2 separate regions of the Homo sapiens genome follow, and region 2 is linked to region 1. A link means that fine-mapping ties the variant in region 1 to the expression of a gene that starts in the linked region. Tissue or cell type: whole blood. Region 1 holds a variant in brackets; the other region holds the start of a gene. All regions are shown on one strand. Distances are from middle to middle.

Region 1 (2,681 bases):
ATTGCTTGAGGCCAAGAGTTTGAGACCATCCTGGGTAATATAGTGAGACCTCATCTCTACAAAAAATAAAAAGAAGGCTGGGTGCAGTGGTTCACGCCTGTAATCCCAGCACTTTGGGAGGCTGAGGGGGGCAGGTCATGAGGTCAAGAGATCAAGACCATCCTGGCCAACATGGAGAAACCCTGTCTCTACTAAAAAAATAAAAAATAAATTAGCTGGGCGTGGTGGCACGCGCCTGTAGTCCCAGCTACTCAGGAGGCTGAGGCAAGAGAATCACTTGAACCCGGGAGGTGGAGGTTTTAGTGAACTGAGATTGTGCCACTTTACTCCAGCCTGGCAACAGAGTGAGAATCTGTCTTTAAAAAGAAAGAAAGAAAGAAAGAAAGAAAGAAAAGAAAAAAATCAGCTGGGCGTGGTGGCATGCGCCTATAGTCCCAGCTACTCGGGAGGCTAAGGCAGGAGAATCACTTGAACCCAGGAGGTGGAGGTTGCAGTGAGCTGAGATTGTGCCACTGCACTCCAGCCTGGTGACAGAGTGAGGAAAAAAAAAATCAACTGGGTGTGGTGCAATGTGTGTGCAATGTGGTGCGCCTGTAGTCCCAGCTACTCGGGAGGCTGAGGCAGGAGAATTGTTTGAACCCAGAAGGCAGAGGTTGCAGTGAGCTGAGATCACGCCACTGCACTCCAGCCTGGTGACAGAGTGAGACTCCATCTCAAATAAATAAATAAATAATAAAAAGAAAAATGTTAGTCGAGTGTGGTGGTGCGCACTTGTAGTCCCAGCTACTCAGGAGGCTGAGGCAAGAGGATCACTTGAGCCCAGGAGTTTGAGGCTGCAGTGAGCCATGATTGCACCACGGCACTACAGCCTGGGCAACTGAGACTCTGTCTCTAAAAAAAAAGTGAGGGTGTGGATGGTGCCAGAAAAGAAGGGTTGGTGCATCTTCAGAATTAGGCGATGGGAAGGACAAAGAATGAGCCTGCCACCTGGGCTGGGTCACTTCCAGTTTTTTTTCTTTTCTTTTCTTTTCCTTTTTTTTTTTTTTTTTGAGTTTTGCTCTTGTTGCCCAGGCTGGAGTGCAATGGCATGATCTTGGCTCATTGCAACCTGTGCCTCCCGGGTTCAAGCGATTCTCCTATCTCAGCCTTCCAAGTAGCTGGGATTACAGGTGTGTGCCACCACGCCTGGCTAATTTTGTGTGTTTTGTAAAGACGAGGTTTCACCATGTTGGTCAGGCTGGTCTCGAACTCCTGACCTCAGGTGATCCTCCCATCTCAGCCTCCCAAAATCCTGGGATTACAGGCGTGAGCCACCATGCCTGGCCAGCCTCCAATTTTCTGAGTTAGCCTTTTGAAAACTGCCAAGAG[G/T]CTGGACACGGTGGCTCACGGCTATAATCCAAGCACTTCGAGAGGCTGAGGCGGGTGGATCATTTGAGGCCAGGAGTTCGAGACCAGCCTGGCCAACATGGCAAAAACCCATCTCTACTAAAAACACAAAAATTAGCAGGGCACGGTGGCATGCGCCTGTTGTCCCAGCTACTTGGGAGGCCGAGGCAGGAGAATCACTTGAACCCAGGATGCAGAGGTTGCAGTGAGCCAACATGACGCCACTGCACTCCAGCCTCGGTGACAGAGTGAGGCTGTCTCAAAAAAAAAAAAAAGAAAGAAAGAAAGAAAGAAAGAAAGAAAACTGCCAAGAATGCAAAAACAGCACATCAGGTGATGGGCCTATTTCTGCCCATTACCCAGGGGAAAGAAGAAGGTTTCCAAGGAATCCAGCCCAACATAATTGATTTGGGCCTTTCTAGAGAGAGCAGCTGGCTCAACCATGAGAATAAAGCTGTGTTTTTGTAAGGCAGTGCAGTGTGGTAGGGAAGGCATTGGGTTCTGGTGTCTGATGGACTTTGTTTCAAATGCAGTGGCACCACTTCCTGGCTGTGTGACCTTGGACAGATGTCTTCACCTGTCTGATCCTCAGTTTCTTCATTTGATAAATGGAAATAATAGTCCTTTTCTACAGGTTGGTTGTAAGGATTTAATGTGCCTGTGCATTGGAGCAGCACCTTACCTGGGCAGGGTGACACTTGAACAATATCAAAATGATCCTTGACTGCTATGACACTCAATGAAACACTCGGCTTGCAGTTAGGGGTCATATTGTTCAAAAAATTCATATCTTTAGGCCGGGCACAGTGGCTCATCCCTGTAATCCCAGCACTTTGGGAGGCTGAGACAAGCAGATCACTTGAGGTCAGGAGTTTGAGACCAGCCTGGGCAACATGGTAAAACCCTGTCTCTACTAAAAATACAAAAATTAGCCAGGCATGGTGGCTCATGTCTGTAGTCCCAGCTGCTCAGGAGTCTGAGGCAAGAAAATGGCTTGAACCCGGGAAGCTGAGGTTGCAGTGAGCTGAGATTACACCATTGCACTCCAGCCTGGGTGACAGAGCGAGATTCTGTCTCAAAAAAGAAAAAAATCGTATCTTTAAATACTAGAATCATATTCAATGCAGTAGGAAACTAATATCAAACAAGGCATCAAGAAATCAAACACCAATTGAGATAACAGATTTCTGTCTTTTACTGACTTGCACTGTCTAGAGTAGCCATTGAGTGGAATGAGACATAGTTACCTGCACAAGTAAAATTCTCTCTCCCTGGTATACATCTGTTGAAATCTA
Region 2 (2,681 bases), 150 kb after region 1:
TCCTCCACCCCCCTTCCCTCTCTCTGCAGCCCTTGTCCCCCAGCCCCTGACTTCTGGGGCATCCAAGCAGGTCTCAGAGCCAGCCTGGGTCCTACATCTCCCTCTTCCTTGGCACGGAAGCAGTCACATTGACCCCTGCTTGGAGGACCCCAGCATTCCTGATTCTGCCTCTGCTACTACAATGCTGCCCAATCCACCGCCATAGGAGCCTAGAAAACCCTGGAGCCCACACAGCAACCTCACTCAACCCTCCACTCTCTGCACAGGGCCAAAGAGGTTTCTTCCAGGCAGGATGGAGCAGTGGTTAGAGCACAGGCACTGGAGTTATAGAAACCTAAGTTCAGATTCTAGCCCCTTCACTTTCTAGTTGACTTTGAGCAAGTGACTTTCAGAGCCTCCTAGAATTAGGTGACAGGGGTTGGGATCAGTCCCTACTCATGGGATGGTTGGGAAGATTAAATAAAATTATGCTTAGAAAACAAATTGCAAATGACAGCCACCCCATCATCCTTAAGCACCCTTCAAAACCCCACCCCAGGCTCATTTCCTCTTCAGGGTCATCCCTGGGAGGTTCCATGTTCATCCCTCCTTGATGAGCTTTGGGGGACATATCCTTCCACCTCTGCGCCCCCCAGGCAGATTTAGGAGAGTCATTTCAACACAAATAAAACTAGGCTTGGGAAACTCGACACCCACTCCTTTGGCTTCCAGCTCAGAGCCAGGTGGGGTAATTATTGCTGTCACTGAGACGTAATTAATAAGCATCCCTGCTATTTTGGCACCCCCAGTCTCTGGAGTTCAAAGTATATTCCTGTAGCCACCTCCTCCTTCCTCATTTTCAGCTACCAAATCCTCTCAACAACTCAAGGCCCAGAGAGGTTAAGCAACTCGCCTCAGGACACCCAGCACCTAGGCTGGGTGCCAATTCCCAGGCTGAGTCTGTGGCCTCCTGAACAGAACTGGGGAGTGGTGTATGCTGTGAAGAAGGCAACCCCCCTTCCTGCCCATCCTCTCCCTGACAGACTTTCCCCTTTCTCAGATGGACAGTGGGGGTGAGAAGCAGTGGGTTCCAGGAGGTAGCCTGTGGGCAAAGGGAGGGAGAGGAAGGCAGGGTTGGAGCAGGGAGGGAAGGCAGAGTCGGCTCAGGGTCCTGAATGAATGGGCCTAGAGCTGGAGAGGCCCAGGGAATAGGCAAAGTCTCAAGACAGGGCAGCCAGGCCAGTCTCCCCTCCCATCTCCACACACAGACCGACCTCTACTCACAGTCTGCGTGGGGACCCAGGTGTCCAGCCAGCCTGGAGCTCCTGCTGCTGGGCCGTGCTCCCCTGATGCGATTGGGCTCTCAGCTGGGGTTCCTGAGGCGGGGCCGTCCGGCACCCTGTGATGGGGCGTGGCCCCTGGGGAGGCTCCCACCAGCCCTCAGATTCCTCAGGGCCGCAGAGGTGTGGAGCTGGTTGGGCCGGTTCTTCACCCTCCTCCCCTGGTGCTTGCCTGTGCCCCAGCAGGGTGACAGTGATGTAGTAGCGGGTCCTCCTGGAAGAGGGACGCGTGTGTAGGGTCTGGGCAGGCTCTGGCAAGGCAGTCCCTGGGGTGGCGGGCTTGCCCTTTGTCCCCTCTGCCCTGGGGAAGGATGCAGGGTGGAGCAGCAGGGGTGCGTCTTCCAGGTTGCTGGGTGGCTCAGGCCTCAGAGGGACCTCTGAAGCTGTGGGTGGAGACTGCTGACAGGTGCAGCCTGAGGATCCCTGCTCCCCATGTCCAGGAGCAGGCCCTGGGTATTGGGGGAGCCTGGTACGAGCAGACTCTCCTGAGGCCACTTCCAGGGCCAGGCTCTCAGGCCCCAGGGAGGCATGGCTGGCCAGGTCGAAGGCGCTGCCCACCGCTGGCCTCTGTAGGCGCCCCAGGGACTGAGCAGGACCCCCCGAGATTCCTTGTTGCTTCCAAATCCAGAAATCATCATGGTCCCCTACATGGATGTCCCATTCTGAGCAGCTCTGGCCTTGGGCCTGGGTGAAAACAGAGATAGACACTGAGAGAGGCAGGGGCATAGTGACAGCTCCCCCTGCCCTCCAGGCACCCCTGGTACCTGGTATCTTCCCTGTCACAAGGAAGCTGAACAGGGCTCTGACACCAAGGTAAGCTGCCCTAGGGAGAGGCTGCTAAGGCCACCAGAGCTGGACAAAGGGACAGAGCTCTGGGAAGGCCCTTCAGCATTTAACTCACCCCTTCCCATTCTACGTAAGAGGAAAGTGGGGCCCAAAGAAGACGGCGACATGACTGAGATCACACAGCAAGCCAGCGAGGGCTCCCAACGCTCAGGTGCCGCACTCCCTCCCAGGTGACAAGGCACCCAGGGCCTGGCCGGCCATGCCCCCCAAAGGCTGGAGATCTCAGCTTCCTTGCAGTCCTGAGGTGCTTCCCCGCCCTGGGGCTGAGGGCTGGGTGGGAAGGCCTGCCTCAAGTGCCCATGGCCTCTGCCCATTCCAAGCTAACAGAGAGACTGCGGCCACCTCTCTTGTACCCTCCCAGCTTGAGACAGAACACCTGGGAGGATGTACCTGGGATATAAGGGAGCCAGAGAAGAGGGTTCCCCTGAAATGGGACAACACCTGACCTCTTCTGCTGTCTTCCCCTGGGGTCCAGCCTGGCTGTGGGGATAAGAGGAGAGGGCTCAGCACCCCAGA

Evidence for each region. PIP is the estimated chance that this variant, and not a neighbour inherited with it, causes the effect. A credible set is the group of variants that fine-mapping cannot tell apart.
Region 2: it holds the start of CRYBG2, and the variant in region 1 is the best candidate, but not a certain one, in a credible set for the expression of CRYBG2 in whole blood (INTERVAL, PIP 0.61).

What each region holds. Positions count from the first base shown.
Region 1 is chr1:26,206,120-26,208,800 of GRCh38, forward strand. No RefSeq gene overlaps it. Among named protein-coding and RNA genes, the nearest start is that of CATSPER4, 17 kb to the left of the region's middle. The variant G/T (reference allele first, on the strand shown) is at 1,369.
Region 2 is chr1:26,352,783-26,355,463 of GRCh38, forward strand. CRYBG2 (crystallin beta-gamma domain containing 2) reads right to left here and starts at 1,348. Exons shown (of 20, transcript NM_001039775.4): 1 at 1,254-1,348.